Regions from separate parts of the Homo sapiens genome. Here region 2 is linked to region 1. Evidence: fine-mapped expression QTL. A gene starts in region 1. The other region holds a variant in brackets. All regions are shown on one strand. Distances are from middle to middle.

What was found. PIP is the estimated chance that this variant, and not a neighbour inherited with it, causes the effect.
Region 2: its variant is fine-mapped to the expression of FGD2 in whole blood (TOPMed, PIP above 0.99).

Annotation. Positions count from the first base shown.
Region 1 is chr6:37,000,554-37,010,103 of GRCh38, reverse strand. FGD2 (FYVE, RhoGEF and PH domain containing 2) reads right to left here and starts at 4,449. Exons shown (of 16, transcript NM_173558.4): 1 at 4,219-4,449; 2 at 1,039-1,270. The coding sequence starts at 4,286. RefSeq lists enhancers at 2,314-2,483, 4,304-4,433 and a silencer at 4,689-4,851.
Region 2 is chr6:37,022,571-37,033,351 of GRCh38, reverse strand. FGD2 (FYVE, RhoGEF and PH domain containing 2) reads right to left here. Exons shown (of 16, transcript NM_173558.4): 14 at 7,414-7,560; 15 at 5,777-5,923; 16 at 4,283-5,404. The coding sequence ends at 5,189. Among named protein-coding and RNA genes, the nearest start is that of FGD2, 22 kb to the right of the region's middle. RefSeq lists enhancers at 3,630-3,709, 6,994-7,931, 7,643-8,842. The variant C/T (reference allele first, on the strand shown) is at 5,906.

The sequences.
Region 1 (9,550 bases):
AAACCTCCCGGCAGCATCCCAGTCAACTCACAAAATGTGAGAAACAATAAACAGTTACATTCAGCCCCTACATTTTTTTTTTTTTTTTTTGAGACAGAGTCTCGCTCTGTCACCCAGGCTAGAGTGGAGTGGCGCAATCTCGGCTCACTGCAACCTCCTCCTCCTGGATTCAAGTGATTCTCCTGTCTCAGCCTACTGAGTAGCTGGGATTACAGGCGCCCACCACCATGCCCAACTAATTTTTGTATTTTTAGTTGAGACAGTGTTTCCCTATGTTGGCCAGGCTGGTCTTGAACTCCTGACCTCAGGTGATCTGCCCACCTCGGCCTCCCAAAGTGCTGGGATTACAGGCGTGAGTTACTGCACCCGGCCAGCCGCTACATTTTTGATAGGTTTGTTCAGCAGCGATTGAAAACCAGGACGCATTACTATAACCACTATCCCCATTTTACAAATGAGGAAACTGGCACAAAGAGACTCAAGTGACTTGCCCAAGGACACACAGTTAGTAAGCAGACGTGCTGGGATGTGACTCCAGGGAATTTGGGTGCACAGTATCTGCATGCCAACCCTTGAACTCTGCAGATGAGAAAACTGCAAGCCACAGAAGAGATCAGACTGGGCTTTAGTCTAAGGGCAGGACAGTTCACACTCAGACCTCTATTTCTAGGTTGAGATTGTTGTCTCCTCCAGTGGGTAAACTGAGGCCCCACCTGAGAAGAGTATTAGGTTCACAAGATGGAGACTGTTCCAAGCTGTGTGGCCTTGAATAAGTTCCTTAAAACTGTGTTTCAACTTCCTTGTCCAAAAAACTCCTACACGAGGGACTCGCGAAGTAATCCAGCACGGTGCGTAGCAGGCAGTTAGTGAATCAAAGGCCATTAAGCATGGGGAAATCTAGCTCCCAGCTGACCTCTGATCACACCATACCCCCACCTGGGGAACTGCTGGCTCTGGCTAGGAAAGCATGTGTGGAGGGGAGGTCAGGGAGAGCTCCCCACCCCAGCACCCCACACCTCTACCTCAGCCCTCAGGCACCTGCGTCCCCGATCCTGAGAGGGTCACAGGCTGGCAAGATTTCCTCCAGGCTTCGCTGGACAGCTTGTTCTTCAGGGAGTTCAGGTACCTCCTGCTGACTGTCCTGGGCTCAGACCCCACGGCCTCCCCGACATTCGTCTTCTCCCGTGGTCCTGGGGACTCGGGAGGCCTGCACTCAGGGCGGTGATGCACGTCCTCTAGCCTCTGGCCTCTGGGTGCTGCTTCTGGGGTCCTGAGGAGAAGAGACAGACCTGAGGGCTTCCTCCCTGGAGAACAGGGAAAACAGCAGCAAGTCCCTGGTGTGGATTTGGGTTGCCTGGTGCAAATCCCCAGTGCAGGGGCCCCTGGGTGCCTGGCTTTCTTTGGGAACATGCTGAGTAAGACTTTCACTTCTCTCCCAACACATTCTTGGAGGGAACTCAGTGTTCAAAATGAGTCAGGGTGGACTATATTTTATTTTCTGGGGAACTGCATACTTCCTTGTTTAAAATGAAGCCACAGTGTCCAGGAATCCTTTCTGTATATAGGGGTTTTTGAGTGGTACCCCCTGGATTATCCTCACCTTTGGACCTCACCTCTGTTTTCAGTTTCCACATCAGTAACCTATACATCAAGGGAAGGTAGGAGCCACAGAACAATATAAAGTGAGAGCAGGCCTGCAAAAGCTGGGGCTTCTCAATGGGATCGACATCCTCCACACGTCCAGAAGCAGGGAGAGCCAGCCCAGCAGCAGATGCTCTGTTCTCCCAGGGACGGGCCTTCGTAGGTCACCTTTATTACCCTGTGTACTGGGTTCTGCAAGCCAGTCAAATTCCTTAGACAACAGGGCCCACCCTTGATGAATACACCCAACGTTGCCCTTGGTGTGGAAGGGCTTGTGATGACAGAACAGGGCAGGCATCCTTATGAGAAAGACAGGCCAGGAAATGGAAGGCCAAACAAATACGAAATCTCCAAAACTCCGTGAGAAAGGTTTTCATTACCCATATTTTGCACTCAAGGAAACTGAGGTCTGGACAGGATGAGTAACATGCGGCTCGGAAGTGGCAGAGGTGGGATTCAAATCAGGCGACTGCTTCCTGAGCCTTCACTCTAACCTGCCCCTCCCCATTTGAGTAAAGGAGAAACAGGTCCGCGGAGTCAAAGTGACTTGCCCCAAGTGACACAATTGGGTTTGTGGCAGCGAAAGCATTGGGACCTAGTGCTGTGTGGCTACTCCCAGGCTCTCCCACCCCTCCCTGGCACCCCAGTCCCTGGTTTCTCAGCCCATGGGTCTGCAGCTCATGGGCGTAGCTGGTTCTCAGGCTTTCTGTTCTACATTTGGTTTCAGGTTCTGCATTTCTGTTCTAGGGCCCCTGGCCAGCTTCTGTTTCCTCTTTGCCCCTCAGTTTCAGATCAGCTGAGGTGCTGGAGACCTCATAAGGAAGCCCAGGCCAAGGCAGTTGGTATGGGTCCCCTCACTCAGTAAGGAGTGGCTCTCACCCTCTTGATGCCTGCTGGGACCTAACTCCCGTCTAAGGGCTGCCCACTCCTGCCAGGGTTATTGCCTGGGCAGAGCACAGCATGCTGAGGGGCTCCACCCAGGTGTGCCTAGTCCACGTCAAGCATGTTGAGTGAGGTGGTACCATCCACCCACACCCAAGGGGGTGGTGGGCCAGGAAGGCGGCACCCAAGAGCTGTCTTTGGTGCTGAACAGGACGAGCTTGGCAAAGATCCCGGGAGAGGCAGGGGAGAATCACCCAGCTCAGGAAGTTGAAGACTTCTAGGTCTACATCTATGCCATCTCCACCCTGAAGCCTACAGGAAACATTGCCTGCCATGAGTGCCCTCAATACAGCATCCGGGCCATTCCTAGGACATCTACTGTCTATGACCTTGCATCATAGTTATTCGATGAGCTCAGCATCCAAATACTGAAACCCTTCTTCATCCTCTACAGTTCCTGTAGGATGCTGTGCTGTGCCACCCATGTCCCTCCTTCAGGAATGAGGCCTCCCCACACCATCCCCACCAGCTACTGGTAGTACTGGGGGCTGCCGGGTAATTTATTGGCTGAGTCCCTCTCTGGGAATCACTCTCTGGAAGAGAGAGCTGCCTCACCCAGAGTCTCTTGTCCAGTCCACATGGAGATACAAATACCCAGCCCTCTTCCTCAGCTGGAACAACCGAGAGGCATCCCAGCTCCAGAGCTCCCTGGGACAGGCTGAGGCCTCTGTGGCAGGTGCACTGCAGTTCAGCATCTCCCCCTGCCCGGCCCTGCTTCCCTCACACCCACAGCTGTTGTTCCCAAAAGCTCTCCCTGATAAATCACCTGAGGCAAACCTCTGTCTGAGTCTATTTCCAGAAAACCCTACCTGGGACAGCCCCTAACACAGTCCTGAGCTTAAGAAATGCCTGCAGAATGGATTGATGCCACACATAACACACAACACACACATACACACACGCGCACACACACAAACACACATGCTCCCAGGGCTACCAATGACTCCACGCATCTGGCCCAGCCTTTTCCCTCCAGACAGACGCCCCAGCATTGCCCCAGATACTTAAAGCACTTGGCATCCTCACCTCTCTGTGTCTCCATTTCCTCATCTATAAGACGGGAACAGAAACAGAATCTACCCCTATTAGGCTGTTCGATGACTAAATTAAATAAGTAAGGACATGAACTTAGAGTAGGGAGTACCCCATCAGGATGCTGCCCGTACATCCTGGTTTGCCTCATACGGTCCCAGCTTTACCTGTAATGCCTCCCCCACAACCACCACATTTTATTTGGCATTTACTTTCAGTTTCAATTGTGTGCTGAATGATAAATTATATGGTTATCCTAATCATAGGGCGTAAATTCTTGGTGAGTATCAGCTACCTTTTCTGAGAGGTGCTGGCAGGCACTGGGTGGGGTCCTGTGCCCACACACAGGCTTTGGTCTGCCCATGCTTGCTCGTAACCACACCTGTCTGGACTCTCCCAACACACACTGGCACTCTCACCCCTGCCTGGCTCCTGGTGTCCCACCGACACTCTCCCATGCTCCAAGGAATCCGTGACCGAGGAACGCGGGGCTGCCCCTGCAGGAGGAGGGTCCGGGGCAGGGCCCAGGGAGAGAGCTGCCAGAAAGGCTGGAGGGTGGCTGCCAGCCCACCATGGTGACCCTCCCACCCCAGCTGCCCATACCTGCTATTCTCAAACACAGTGACCAGGTTGGACACAGATGCCAGCTTCTCCTCACTTGCCCCCTTCATCCTGCCGGTTTCCGGGGTGGATCTCAGCTACCCTCGAAGCAGAGAGAGAGGCCTCCAGCCAGCACACTCAGCCACGCTGGCCTGGGACAGATAGGCTAAATCACCCATGAATCTGTTCTGATCTTTCTTGAGGGCTCAGAAGGTCGGCTCTTGGCTTCAGAGTGAAGAAAGAGGAAGTGGTCCCAGAGCCACAGCCCTGCAGGGGAAAGGCCAGCACTCCCGCAGTGGGAGGAGCCTGCTCGGGCCCCACCTCTCCCTCAGGGGGGCTGACCTTTCACACCTGTAGACCCCCATTCCAGAAGCCACCTAAGAGGTGGCAACAGGGCCCAGAGGTAGCTTCTGGAGCCCAGTCTGGGCTGGTGCAGTGGTTTGCACCTCTAATTCCAGTGCTTTGGGAGGCCGAAGCAGGAGGATTGCTTGAGCCCAGGAGTTCAAGACCAACCTGGGCAACATAGTGAGACACCGTCTCTTAAAAAAAAAAAAAAAAAAAAAGGCCACCCGGAGCCAGACCCTTGGCTGGTTTCTTGGCCTAGTGGTTCCAGCCAACCACACTTTCTCCTTCAGAAGGTCCAGTGGCTTTTACTTGGCCTCTTTCCCAGCACCTTCTTTTCTGCATCTGCCCCTGCTCACAGCTGTAAGGAAATAATGTCTTTTTTATTCTTTAGAGACAGAGTGCGGTGGTGGGATCTCGGCTCACTGCACCCTCTGCCTCCCGGTTCAAGCGATTCTCCTGCCTCAGCCTCCTGAGTAGCCGGGATTACAGGGCCTGCCACCACGCCCTGCTAATTATTTGTATTTTTAGTAGAGATGGGGTTTCACCATGTTGCTCAGGCTGGTCTTGAACTCCTGGCCTCAGGTGATCCTCCTGCCTCGGCCTCCCAAAATTCTGGGATTACAGATGTGAGCCACTGTGCCTGGCCAGGAAACAGCATGTTTTATTTAAAATAATCACAAACCTGGTAAGGGTGGCAGGGAGTACTGTGATGTTCCCACCTCCCCACTGGGGTTCTCTCATTTTAGTTGTTGCTGTCATCACCTCATTGCCCCAAGGGAGGGCAGTTTCCTCCCTGAAACTCAGAGGATAATAATAGCTAACATGCACTCTTTTTCATGCTTATGAGTATTTTCTTATTAATCCTATAACAACCTCATGAGGTAGGTACTATTCCTATCCCCACTTTACATAGGAAGAAACAGAATCAGAGAGGTTAAGTAACTTGCCCAAGGTCACCCAGGAAGAATACAAGAGAAGTTGGATTTCCAAAGCAAAAGTGGGTGTCCTACAGTTCCAGCAAAGGTTCGTTGGGAGCCTGGATGACCATGTTCTTGCTGCTCCATCCCCAGGCCTCCCTGATCCCAGGACACTGGGTTGTCTTTGCCTGAGGCCTCCTTTACCACCTGGTCTCCCGGCCCTTACAGAACAAATGGACGCTGCCTCTGTTCCCCTCCTTCAAGCCCCACAGGCCGTTCAGGGCCCTCCCACTGGGCTCTGGTCCCACCAGGGCTCTCCACTGAACCTGGTCTGTGTCCTGGAGTGCAGGGCCTGAGCCTCGGTGCTCTTGGTACGTGAAGTGCCTGGAACAGCTTCACGCTCCAGTAACTGTGAACCCCTGGGGCCTCACATGCCCAACAGCCGCCCTCACCCCAAGCCTCGTCTGAGTGGTTTCTCCCACCAGATGCCGGGCCCCCTGCCCCAAACCCTAAGTCTCACAAACCTCCATTTTTGTTTTTTACTTTTTATTATGGAGAATTTAGAACATATGCAAAACTAGACAGAATCATATAATGCATCCCATGAACCCCTAATCCAGACCATAACAAACCTCAGCTCACAGCCAGTCCCCTGTCCCTGCTGCAGCCACATCGACTCTGCCTTCTCATGTCATTTTGAAGAAAATCCCAGATGTCAGATGACATTACCCATAAACATTTTAGTGTGTATCTAGAAGATGAGAACTCTCTCTCTCTTTTTTTTTTTTTTTGAGACTGAGTCTTACTCTGTCACCCAGGCTGGAGTGCAGTGCTGCAATCTCGGATCACTGCAATCTTCACCCCACTGGGTTCAAGCGATTCTCCTGCCTCAGCCTCCTGAGTAGCTGGGACTACAGGTGTGTGCCACCACACCCAGCTAATTTTTGTATTTTTAGTAGAGACGGAGTTTCACCATGTTGGCCAGGCTGGTCTCGAACTCCCAACCTCAGATGATCCACCTGCCTCGGCCTCCCAAAGTAGTGGGATTACAGGCATGAGCCACCGCGCCCAGCCAAGAACCCTTTAAATAACTAAATATACACACACATAAATGTATATGCATATATACACATGTATAATAGTAATATTGTTTTATATAGACATACATGTTTTACATGTTATATCCATGTGTATATACATATGAAATAATATTACCGTTATCATACCCCAAGAGATATTTAGCAATAATTCCTCAATATAATTAAATATCCAGAAAACATTCCAAGTGCCAATTCCTTATAAATGTTAAATTAAAAAAAAAAATCAGAATCCAAATAAGGTCCACACATTCCCTGAGCTGTCACGTGGATGAATTCACTTTTCATCCACACGTTCCCCTGGTCCTTTCCGTTTTCCCACACAGCATAGTGGAGGGACCCTGGGTTGTTTGTCCTGTAGGTCCCACAGCCAGGACTTAGCCCATTGCAGCGCCATACCCTGGATTTCCTGTCGATGGTGGTTAGGTCTAGAGGCTCGATCAGAATCACCTTTAAATGCCACTTCTTCCCGATGCCCTCCCTGGCCTGGGGGCGCCTCCCTCCCTGGTGTTCCTCTCCTGGATTTCCTCCTCTGCCTCCCACCAGTCTCTCTGCTCACTGGCTGGCTTGCTCCCTCCACGCAGGGCACACCTGAGTACGTGCACTTCCTGGTGGGTCCCCAACCCCAGCGCCCTTCCCGCATACAGTGGGGCCTCAGAAGGCATGTGGAATGGACAGACATCACACCCCAAGCCTCAGAGGATTGTCTTACCCCTCAGCTGCCAGTGCTTTGAGCATCCAAGCCTGAACAATGGGACCTGCCCCTCCCATGGGGGCTGGAGGGTGGGTAGGTGGGCCTTCAAGAGGCCTCCAATACCCTAACCCTGAAGATGGCACAGGCACCATCAGAGCTGCTTCCCTCCAGGAAAAAGAGGCCAAGATGTCTACACCCCCAAAACAACCTTCCCTCATCATCCAAGGCTCTGCCTCCCCTGTCCCCTACCACTCTGACTTGGGCCCCTCACAGTCTGCCAGGCTTTCTGCCTGTACCTGCAGGCATCACCTGAGACTCAGCCTCGGCCTTCTGGTCTCCTGATTCACACACACCTCCCACCCAATTCAGAATTTATCCTGGAGGTCCCACTGGTACCTCTTCCTGCCCTTCTACCCAGTGGATATGTCCAACACCTTCAGGATATCACCAGGTAGATGCCTACCTTTGCTTCCAACTCAACACACAACTCTCTAAAGCCAGCACCATTATTGCACTGAAGTCATCTCAAACTCACTGGGGCAGCCATCAAGATCCTCCTGGTTGACACTCTCAGCTACTTCTTGCCTGCACACACCTAATCTGTGTTGGGATCCAAACCTGCCGGGTACTGTGGCTGAGCTAAGCTGAGCCACGCTGAGCCACAGCCCCAGAATCCCCTTCCCTGCATGGTCTGGACTACTGTTAGCCATGGATGCAGGAGGGGATATAGCAGCCCTGTTTTGTTCCTGGGTCAGTGCAGAGCTCCAGCCCTGTTGCAGATCATACATGTTGATGTGGGTCTGTTGCTTCTCCACTGATCTTCCTTTTCAGCTTGTCCAGCTCCTGGGCCAGGTGCATGCTTAGCTCCAGGACAAAGATAACCTGTGTCATCAAAGTTGATGGCTTGGAGGTGGCCACCTGTCCGTCCTCCAGAGTCCCAGCTCTTCCTGACTAGTTCAGTTCCTCTTTGCTCCCCCTACCTCCCTGCCGGCTTCTCCTCCCCACTGCCTGCCCTGCTTACTTTAGACTCAGAAGCATTAACTCTTTAAGAAGCTCCCACACTGTATAAGGTCAAATTCTGTATTCTGTATTGGATCCCTGCAGTTCTGGCTTGGGCATCCCTCCCTCACACTCTCTCCCTCCCACCTTCCCCCATCTGAGCTGCAGGGAACTGAGCTCTTCCATCTTCTGTATTGTGTCACTCCCGGTCCTTCTGCTTCTCTGTAGCACCTTGGACCAGTAACAGAACTTCACTTTCCTCTTCTGCCACATGGGGATAATTATACTGCCAACCTCCTGTGGTTGTTATGAAGATTAAATGGGATAATAATATATAGAAGAGGTTAGAGTAAGGCCTGGTACTGAGTAGGTACTCGGTGACTGTTGGCTACCAGCATTCTTACTTTTGAGAGAAGCCTTTGCTATAGCTCCGCTCTGCCTTGACCAATCAGTTCCCTTTGCCTAGAGCAGTGGTCCCCAACCTTTTTGGCACGAGGGACTGGTTTCTGGGGTTGCGGGGGGTGGGGAGATGATTTTGGGATGAAACTGTTCCACTCAGATCATCAGGAATTAGATTCTCATAAAGAGTGAGCAAACTAGATCCCTCACATGCACAGTTCACAATAGGATTCGCACTCTTATGAGAATCTAATGCCACTGCTGATGGGACATGAGGCAGAACTCAGGTGGTAATGCTCACCCGCCACTCACCTCCTGCAGTACGGCCCAGTTCCTAATAGGCTACGGGATCCCTGGCCTAGAGTGTCTTCAGTCTGTCTACAGCCGGTTCACTTCCTCCAGGAAGCCTTCCTTTATACCTACTGCTGGAAATTCATTTTCCTCCTCAGAGACCTGGTGTTCCTCTCTGTTTAATTTTGTCTTTTCCGCCCTATTCATTAAGTCACGCATTCAGTAGATAAGTGTTTCTTGAGCACCTACTATGTGTCAATACCATAGTAGAGGTTGTAGATAAAACACAGTCCCCAGCCCTTTAGCTCAAACTCTAATAAGGAAGATGGGCCTGTTAACCACTAAAATAGGATGTGATGAAAGCTTTGAACAAGGGAGTTATGAACATCCAAAGAAGGGTCATCAGAAGGCTTTGTGGCAGAGGTGACTTGAAGTATGAAAGATGAAGGATGGGCTGGGTGCGGTGGCTCAAACCTGTAATCCCAGCACTTTGGGAGGCTGAGGCGGGCGGATCACAAGGTTAGGAGTTTGAGACCAGCCTGGCCAATATGGTAAAACCCCGTCTCCATTAAATTAAAAAAAAAAAAAAGCAA
Region 2 (10,781 bases), 23 kb before region 1:
CACACAATTCATTCTGTCAGTCCCCAGATCTTTTGTTTTGTTTTGTTTGAGACAGAGTCTCACTCTGTCACTGAGGCTGGAGTGCAGTGGTGCCATCTCGGCTCACTGCAACCTCCGCCTCCCAGGTTCAAGCGATTCTCCTGCCTCAGCCTCCCAAGTAGCTGGTACTACAGGCGTGTGCCACCATGTCCAGCTAATTTTTGTATTTTCTGGTAGTGACAGGGTTTCACCATGTTGCCCAGGATGGTCTCAAACTCCTGATCTCATGTGATCTGCCCGCCTCAGCCTCCCAAAGTGCTGGGATTACAGTTGTGAGCCACCACTCCCAGCCAGTCCCCAGATTTTTATTGAGGACTGGCTGTGGGCCAGGCACTGGGAAACAGCAGTGAACAAAAGACCAACTCTCTGCCCTCCAAAAATGGAGACAGGACACTAATCTAAGAAACATAAAATAGAAGCCGGGTGCGGTGGCTCACGCCTGTAATCCCAGCACTTCGGGAGGCCGAGGCGTGTGGATTACGAGGTCAGGAGATCGAGACCACGGTGAAACCCTGTCTCTACTAAAAATACAAAAAAATTAGCCCAGCGCAGTGGCGGGCGCCTGTAGTCTCAGCTACTCAGGAGGCTGAGGCAGGAGAATGGCATGGACCCGGGAGGCGGAGCTTGCCACTCGCACCACTGCACTCCAGCCTGGGTGACAGAGCGAGACTCCGTCTAAAGAAAAAAAAAAAGAAAGAAAGAAACAAAATAGATAAAACGATTTGTATTATGTGAAGCAGAGTCAGGGGCAGAGTTGCCAGGAGCACTACGTGAGGCAGGTGGACAAGGAAGCCTGTCCGAGGGCCAATGAGGCAGAGACTGGAGAGAAGTGAGGGAGTGCATCGGGCGGATTTCTGGAGGAACAGCATCCAGGCTGAACGAGCAGCAGGTGCAAGAGTCCTGAGGTGGAAGTGTGCTGAGGGAGGGAGGTGAGATGGGGCAAGGGAAGGGGGAACTCTGAGAAGCAGCCAGGGGTCATCCCAAAGGGCCTGGTGGAGCACACGGAGGGAGGCATTAGATGGGCTTCTAACCCCATGCTACTGGAGGGCTGGGAGCTGAAAACTAGCTCAGCTTTCAGATTTGAAAGAATCTGTGTGAAGATGCCAGAGGACAAGTGTGGGAGCAGGAAGGGCAGGTGGGAAGCTCTAGCAATCACCCCCAGAGATATCACAGTGGCCGGGCCAAGTGACAGCATGTGAGGGGTATGAGGTGTGAGGACGGGCTCTGTTCGCAGTATATCCTGAAGGTAGAAGCAACCAGGCTTGCGGCCAGAACAAATGGTCCCAGGAAAGCAGAAACGTCCATGAAGAGCATAGCTAGTAACAACTCCCAGCCAGCGAGCTCCGTCTGTGGGCTAGGAGCTTTCCCTGAATTATCTCACTTGGTTTTCACACCAAATCCTACAAAGAGGCACTGCTTGTCAAGTTACAATGAATACATGGAGGCTCAAGAGGTTGGGTGATATCCCCAAGACCCTATGTCAAGCCTTCAACAGAACTGGAATTTGAGCTTTTCAGGCTATCAAGGGGGTGCCCTTTGCATGATATCAGCTGCCCCTGAGATTTGGAAAGTAGTAGCATATTACCTTGCCAGGCGTGGTGGCTCACACCTGTAATCCCAGCACTTTGGGAGGCCAAGGCAGGTGGGTCACCTGAGGTCAGGAGTTTGAGACCAGCCTGGCCAACATGGTGAAACCCCGTCTCTACTAAAAATACAAAATTAGCTGGGCGTGGTGGTGCATACCTGTAATGTCAGCTACTTGGGAGGCTGAGGCAGGAGAATCGCTTGAACCTGGGAGGCAGAGGTTGCAGTGAGCGGAGATCGTGCCACTGCACTTCAGTCTGGACAACAAGAGCAAAACTCCATCTCAAAAAAAAAAAAAAAAGAAAAGAAAAAGTAGTATAAGTAGTATACTACCTGGCACGTATTAGGTACACATAGTAGGTAATAATCATTTGCAAAATACCTACTTTTTTTTCATTTTGAGACAGGGTCTCAGTCTGTCACCCATGCTGGAGTGCAGTGGTACAATCATAGCTCATTACAGACTCAAACTCCTGGGCTCAAGCGATCCTCCTGCCTTGACCTCCCAAAGTGCTGGGATTACAGATGTGAGCCTGTATGCATTTCTTTGTATCATAAACATTTAAAAGGTCATGAGCCCTATACATTCACCAGAATGTCTAAAATTATTAATTTTAAAAAAACAAACTTCAAACCTGACTATACCAAATGCATGAGCAGGGGAAATGTCATACATTGCTGGTAGGAATGCAGAATGGTACAACCAATATGGAAAACAGCTTGGTAGTTTCTGATAAAGTTAGACACTTACTCAGTGACCCAATTTTAGGTATTTACCTAAGAGAAAAGAAAACGTGCTCACACAAACACTGAACATGAACGTTTATAGTTCATAGGAGTATTATTCATAATTGCCCCAAACTGGAAATAACCCAAGTATACTTAACCTGGTAAACAGATGAACAACTGTGGTATGCCCATGCAATGGAATACTACTCAGCAATGAAAAAGGAATGAACTACTGACATGGAGAACAAAATGGATGAATCTCAAATATATAATGCTGAGTAAAGGAAGCCAGGCTTAAAAAGCTATGGTTCCATTTAAATGACATCTGGAAAAGGCAAAATTATCAGTCAGAAACAGATCAATGGTTACCAGAGGCAAGGAGTAGGGGTGTGGGTTGACTACAAAGGGTGGCATGGGGACACTTATAGGGGGATTGTGGTGGTAGCTGTATGACTGTACTCTTCTGCCAAAACTTAGAAAATATACTAATAAGGGTGGATTTTACAGTCTGTAAATTACACCTCAGTAAACCTAACAATGACAGCACAAAGGTTGTGTGCCCTCGCTTCCCTCTCCTGACGGCTACCTCATTTTGCTCCACAGTGAAGCCACTCTCCATACTCCCACTCAGATTAAACCCCTGGAAAAGCTTAGGTATCAGTGCTGCAGAATCGACTCTGCTGTCACCGAGCCAGCTGCCTTCAGCATCATTGGCGAGTTTTAAAATGCTGATGCAGGCCAGGTGCAGTGGCTCATGCCTGTAATCCCAGTACTTTGGGAGGCTGAGATGGGTGGATCACCGGAGTTCAGGAGTTTGAGACCAGCCTGGCCAATATGGTGAAACCCCGTCTCTACTAAAAATACAAAAATTAGCCGGGCATGGTGGCGCACGCCTGTAATCCCAGCTACTTGGAAGGTTGAGGTAGGAGAATCACTTGAACCTGGGAGGCAGAGGTTGCAGTGAGCCAAGATGGCGTCACTGCACTCCAGCCTGGGTGACAGAGTGACAGACTCCATCTCAAAAATAAAAATAAAAATAAAAAATAAATAAAATGCTGATGCTGTCCGGGCATGGTGGCTCATGCCTATAATGCCAACACTTTAGGAGGCCAAGGCAGGAGGATTGCTTGAGCTCAGGAGTTTGAGGTCAGTCTGGGCAATATAGTGAGACCCCATCTCTACAAAAATTTTAAAAATTAGCTGGATGTGGTGGCGTGCACCTGTGCTTCTAGATACTCAGGAGGCTGAGGAAGGAGGATAGCTTAAACCCAGAAGGTCAAGGTTCCAGTGGGCTCTGATCACACCACTGCACTCCAGCCTGGATGACAGAGCAAAACCCTGTCTCAAATAAACAAACAAACACCCTACAGGAGGGAAGTGGCCTCAGGTTGGAGGCAGGCAAAGCTGCTGGGCCTGTGATGGGACAAAAACCTGTGACTCATCCATGCTTCCTCCTTTCAGGGCAGAGCCCAGCAATGGCTGGACCTGCTGAGAGCAGCTGAGGGTGTTCTGGCCACTGCTGGGGCCACTGCATGTGGCCTGCTGACCACTGCCACCCCCTGGTGGTCTCTTATGAAAAAGCATCCTCACCCACCAGCGAGGTGGGGATGAGGGGACAGGGATGCTCCTCCCGTCACCCTTCCTCCCACCATTCACCTTTCTCTCTTGTCTTCCCAGCTTCTTCACTCTCTTTCCCTCTCTTTTGCTTCTCCTCACTCTCCTCCCCTCTCTGCTTGTCTTATTGTTCTGCTCCATGATAGAAAGAGCTTTGACCTTAGTTCACCGGGTTAAAACCTGGCTCTGGCATCTACGAGCTACATGACCAATTGAGCCAATTACTAAACCTCTCTGAGTCGGTGTCTTCATCTGGAAATGGGGATAACTCTGGATGGTAAAATGACATAATCCACATAAAACACCTTGCACAGAGCCTGGTCCAATAGATGTTTATTATTATTATTACTACTATCATGACTGGCACTTGACAGGGGCTCAACCATTGGTTGTGGTAGTTTGCTCTCTTTATTCTTCATCCCAGGTAACCCAGGCTATATATTAGACTCCAGTGGGTACTCTTAAAAAATATGCATGCGCCAGGTATGGTGGCTCACGCCTGTAATCCCAGCACTTTGGGAGGTGGAGGTGGGAGCATCGCTTGAGGCTGGGAGTTTGAGACCAGCCTGAGTAACATGGTGAAATCCCATCTCTACAAAAAATAAAAAAATTAGCTTGGCACAGTGGCACACACCTATAATCCCAGCTACTTGGGAGGCTGAGGCGGGAGGATCACTGGAGCCCGGGAGAGCGAGGCTGTAGTGAGCCATGTTTGTGCACTCCAGCCTGGGAAACAGAGTAAGACTCTGTCTCAAAAAAAAAAAAAAAAAGACCCCATGCCTCCCCCAACTCAGCCCATTTAAATCGGTGGTGGTACTTCAGTACAGGCATTGTTTTTTACATTTTTAAAATTAATTTACTATGTGTTTTTCACCAGTACTCTTTAAAAGCTCCCCAGGAGATACAAATGAAAAACCATACTATGGTGACCACCAGTCCGGGGTTACCTGGGGCTTTCCCAGTTTTAGCACTGGAAGTCCCATGGCCCAGGAGCCCCCTCCCCGCAAGGCAAACTGAGACACTTGGTTGTCCCCTTTCTAGAAAGGAATGGACCCATATTTTCTAATCCCAGATCGGGACACGTGGCCTGGGCGCAGATGGCTGAATCAATTCTCTGAAAGCACCACTTGGGGCAGTGGGTCACTGAGGCCACAGGGTCAGTCTGTGGCAGGAGCTGGGTTCAGGGTGGGGAGAGGTGGGCAGGAGAGCGGCTGGCAGTGGCTCAGTCGGACAGGTCCCCATCGTTGGGCCAGCTGGGGCTCCAGCCACTGGCCGCCCGCTCCATGGCCTTCACCCAGCGGCCCTTCAGCTCCTCCGTCTCGGCCTTGAAGGTGTAGAGCTGGCCTGACTGCTGTAGCTGGAAGACCCGAGGGTCCCCCTGGGGCCCAACAGTCACCTGGTAGCCCAGCAGGGGGATGGAGGTGTGAGCCCTCATGTCCTGGGGGGAGGAGAGAGCAGTGGGCCACTGTCCCCTCTCAGTCCTACTGCCCCAGATAGCCATCGTGAAGGCAACAGCCACGCACGCACAGCTCACACCCTAAACCCCCATGGGTTGGGGGTGGGCTGGTGAAGGCCATCGAGGAAGAGGACAGAAGAACTGGCTGCCTCTGAGGGCAAAGCAGTGGTGACCTAGAGTCAGGGCACAATTCTGAAACCTACCAACCTTGAGACTCCAGGATACCATATCCTCATTGGGCCTCAGTTTCCCTATCTGACATATGGAGCTAGCAATACTCACCCCTGACCCCCTTCACACACACGCTGTGGGAAGGCCAGGGCCTGACGGGGGGCGGGCAGGTGGTGGCCTTACCTGAGGGGCAGCATAGACATAGAGCACGAGGGGGTCATCCCGAGGGATCACACACCAGCCCCGGGGGCCGCTCTTGCCCCACTTGTCCCCGATGAGCTGCAGGAAGCTGCACATCAGGCTCTGGTCAGG[C/T]GTGGCTGAGGACCCTTTCTAAAACCAGAAGGAGGGACTGTCAGGGAGCAGAGCAGCCGCAAGTGCCAGATGTTGGTCTGGGGGCTTGACAATCACTATCTCCAATCCTTACAGCAGTACTGAATGGAGGGGTCCTTGGTCCTTGAGGCTCAGAGAGGTCCCATCAAGTGCCTGTGGTCACACAGCTAGCTGGCCAGTGGCAGAGCTGCAGTCAAACCCCAGCCTGCCTGAACCTGTCGCGTGTGTGCCCACAAGGGGCAGGTGCCGGGAGGGTGCCTGGAGCTGCTCCAGGAAACAGAATTGGGCCCTGAGAAGGGGCTGAGCATCTCCAGGGGCAGGCTGTGTTGCCTAGTGGTCAGGGGGTCCTGGGCCTGGAAGGATGGGGAGGATTGGAAACGGGGTGGATGCCCGTGGAAAAAGGCCAACTTTTTTTTTTTTTTCAGATAGTTTCTCTCTTGTTGCTCAGGCTGGAGTGCAATGGTGCAATCTCAACACATTGCAACCTCCACCTCCCGGGTTCAAGAGATTCTCCTGCCTCAGCATCCCGAGTAGCTGGGATTACAGGCATGCACCACCATGCCCGGCTGATTTTTTTTTTTTTGTATTTTTAGTAGAGACGGGACTTCACCATGTGGGCCAGGCTGGTCTCGAACTCCTGACCGCACGTGATCCATCCACCTTGGCCTCCCAAAGTGCTGGGATTACAGGCATGAGCCTTCCCGCCTGGCCAAAAGAGGCCAACTTGAACCTGGGAGTGAATCTCAGCTGGCACAGGCTGGGACCTTCTCCCACCTCCCAGGGACGGTGGGATGTCAACCTGGCCTTCGTGAGGGAGGGGCAGTGGACAGTGGTATTGATGCTGAGCTGGTTGACATTGTATTTGTGCTGCCTAGCTGAGCACAGTTGTACCCCCACAGGGGAGCACCTGTGGGGGCAAGTGTGGCTCAGTGAGGCCCCCAGGGCAACAGAAAGAACATCTGTGACTGAGATCAGAGAGCTGGCTCCTAACTTGCTGTGTGATCTTGGGCAAGTCACTCCTCCAGCCCTGGGTCTCCATGGGATAAGACCGACTGGCCCCTGGAGTCCCTTCCAGTTAGAATGGAGTCTCCAATCTGTCTGACCTGGAGCGTCAGTGTTCCCATCTGTAAAATGGAAGCGGTGACACCAGCTCTTGGCACCCTGGGACTGTCGGGGCAGGACATGGGGACGTGAACATGAGCTGTCCAGAGGGGCCGTACTATCGGATGGGGACATAGAGGAAGTGCAGAAGAATGTGGACGACAGCCTGCAGCCAAAGGGTGCCTCCATTTGGTGACAGGCTCCACACTGCCTGGGCTGTGGCGAGAGGCCTGGGGTCTGTGGGCAGAGAGAGGAAGAGGGAGAGGGGGGAGGGTGTGACCATGGCTGGCTTGTTCCTCAGCACTGGACAGTGTCAGCCCAGCATGGTTGCCGGGCACACATTCCCTGAACAGAGGACGGATGGTGAGCGCGGGGACAGTGGCCCTCACCTCCAGGATGCCCCGCCTCTTGTCCTCCTTGGCCTCAGGCAGCACATTTCCAGTGAGGAATGCGTAGCAGTGGAGGCAGACTCGGTTGGGCCTGTTGTCGTCGTATTTCAGTTCGGCCCGGTAGTCGGAGCACCTGGCACACACCACCTGAGGAGGACACATAAGGGGGCATGGGGCTGAGACCAGGCACCGGAGGGCTGGGCTCCTGCCTTGGTGGGCAGGTGGGGGCATGAGAGCAACCAGGGACTGGGGGAGGAAAAGAAAGCTTCGAGGGAGGAATAGAGGCAGAGCGGGGATGCTCCCCCATGCTGGTGAGGCCCAACTGCCTGGAGGCTGCGACACATGGGGGAGCTCGGGCTCGGGGCTCTTAGGCTGAGGGTTCAAGACCCGGCCCCCACCGCGAGGGCCGTAACTTCTCTCCCCTCCAGGTTCCCTCCGAGTGAGGGCTGCTGTGAACCCAAGGGGCTTGCCCCAGACGGGCCACTGGCATCTGATTCACTTTTCCAAATGCTGTCCTCTCCGCCATCTCACCTGACTCTCCCAAAGACCCCACCAGGCAAGCAGGGCCCAGCTTTTGTCCTCTCCTGACCCTGAGAGCCACACTGTTACCTGGCAGACAGGCCCTCCACACACAGGGTGTGTCTTTCAAGTCCCACAGTTTAGCTTTAAGATTCAGGCAGACTTTGTATTCTGCGCCATCATGGAGTCAAGTGTGTTTTCACCTAAAAATGATAGGCTGGTTGTTTTTACATGGGTACTCTGTGGAGCGGGGCCCACTCTCAGCTCACCACGAAGACACCCCCCAAAGGCTGACATGGATCATGCCGGGAGGCTGGGTAAAAGGGGCCTGGGAAGACTCAGAGAGGAACACTGGGTGCCGCAAGGTGTGACTGCGAGGAAGACTTGGCTTTATGGGGAGCCCAGATGTGGGCGTGGAGATGGAGGGCAGGAGAAAGGGGCAGAGGGAGTGTAGTTCATCAGGCGGCACCAGCCTTCAGGGAGCTCCTCTGTGTGCCCAGCACAGAGTGTGGCCTGGCAGGGACCTGGAGAAGAAGGCCTGGCCCTGCCCCACCCTCACAAGGATTCCCGTCTGGCAGGCAGGGGAGACAGAAACTGGCACCCGAACCACCGAAAGGATGACTCACTGGCTCAGCAGGCACGAAGATCTGCACAGGCAAGAGAAACCCACGGTCAGGGCACAGCCCCACACGGGGGCTTCAGCTACCTCAGGAGCATTTTTTTTTTATTGAGCGATTTCAATGTTTAAATATAATTAGTAAATATTTTTTCCTCTACCAACGTTTAATTTTGAAAAATTTCCTACCGACAGACAAATTGAACAAATAATACAATGATACCACCCACTAGATTCACTAATTATTAACATTTGTGCCACATTTGCTCTCTGTCTCTCTCTATATGTATGTATTTTATTTTTTTCTGAACCATTTGAGGATAAATTACAGTCATCATGACACCTCACCCTTAAATATGTAGCTGGTGGTCTCCTAAGAACAAGGGCATCCTTCTACCTATCCACGGTGTCACAGTCACGCTCAGGAAATTTATTGATACAATATTATTATTTTTATTTTTTTGAGATGGAGTTTTGCTTTTGTTGCCTGGGCTGGAGTACAGTGGGGTGATCTGGGCTCACTGCAACCTCCACCTCCTGGGTTCAAGCGATTCTCCCTCCTCAGCCTCCCGAGTAGCTGGGATTACAGGTGTACACCACCACACCCGGCTAATTTTGTATTTTTAGTAGAGACAGGGTTTCACCATGTTGGCCAGGCTGTTCTCGAACTCCTGGCCTCAGGTGATCCGCTCACCTCGGCCTCCCAAAGTGCTGGGATTACAGGTGTGAGGCACTGCACCCAGCCAATACAATATTATTATCTAGATATGTTGCATCATCAAATTTCTCCCAATGGTCCCAAGAGCAACCTTGATAGCTTTATTTTACCCCAGAAAGAATCCAAGCAAGGATCATACATTTAATTTAGTTGTCAGAATATTTTCTATCTTAAGCTGGAAGGCAGCTACACAGGTGTTGTTATTCTTTGTGCCTCTTTGTATTTCACTATTTTAAGTAATTTTTAAAGAACTACTTTCACTCACAAGTGTGAATCAATTCAACTCTTATTTACAGAAGTGAATCACCAGGAACAGTAGCCAATCCCCACATCCTTTCTACCTGGCTTCGGGATGTAACTCATCACTGACATCTGAAGGCAGGTGTGTTCCCAGGTCCTAGAAACTGACTCTGTCCTGATTGCAGTTGAACACATTTTGGGGACACCTCCCTGACTGGCCCCAACCTGTCCAGCTAGACTCCTCCTGTCCTCTGGAGGTCATCAAAGACTGAGGTTGCAAAGGGCTTCTCTGTTTGCAGAGTAAACAGAGGGGGTTGTGATGTCAACAGAGAACAGCTCAAGTACAGGAGTGCTTAAAAAGCAAAGCGAGATCTACCTCTGGTAACTGGGCCTGGATTGATAAGAGGAGAAACTGTAGTGGACACAGTACCCTCCTCAAGAAGCTGGTAGCTCACCCGCACTGGATGCCCTGCCTGAGTTATGGAGGAGGGGGAAAGAAAAAGAGGAGAGGGAAGGGAAAGAATGTTTTTTGGTGGAATCCTCACTGCCACACTGGAGGTAGGTTTCACGATCCCCATGGCGGAGTTAAGGAGACTGAGGCCTGAACCAGTAGGCAGAGTTAACAACAGAATCCATCAGGTGCCAGGGTGCTGAGGGCTTGCAGAGAAGAGAGGACAGTTAGCCGAAGCGGGTAAAGAGAGGATGACGGGGTGGGTGAGTGCATAGTGGGCATGGGCCTGGTGAGGTGGTGGGGCAAGGCCTGAGGGGGTGCGGGGCTAGATGCCCCTCCACTAGAACTGGGGACCATTTCCTAGCTCTGGGTCTCAGGGTCGTGGAAAATGATGATAAGAATGCAGGTAAATTCATAGGATCAGCTTCAGGGGTACCTTCAGCAAGTAATTTAACCTCAATGGGTCTCATTTTCCCATCTAAAAAATGGGAAACAGCAGCCTCCTGAGGTGTGCTGTGAGGGCCAGATGAGGTAGTAATACACACACCTGGCTCAGAGCTAGTGCCCAACACCACTGGGCTGCATTGGTTGAAGCCAGCAGATTTGGCCAAGATGGGGACAGCAGCACCTGAGCTGGGTGGGTAGAGGCCCAGGTAGGGCAGGTAGAGGCCTAAGTGGGACAGGTAGAGGCCTGGGTGACACTGGTGGAAGCCAAGGTGGGGCAGGTGGAGGCCGAGGTGGGACAGGTAGAGGCCAAGGTGGGGCAGGTGGAGGCCTAGGTGGATCAAGTGGAAGCCTAGGTGGATCAAGTGGAAGCCTAGGTA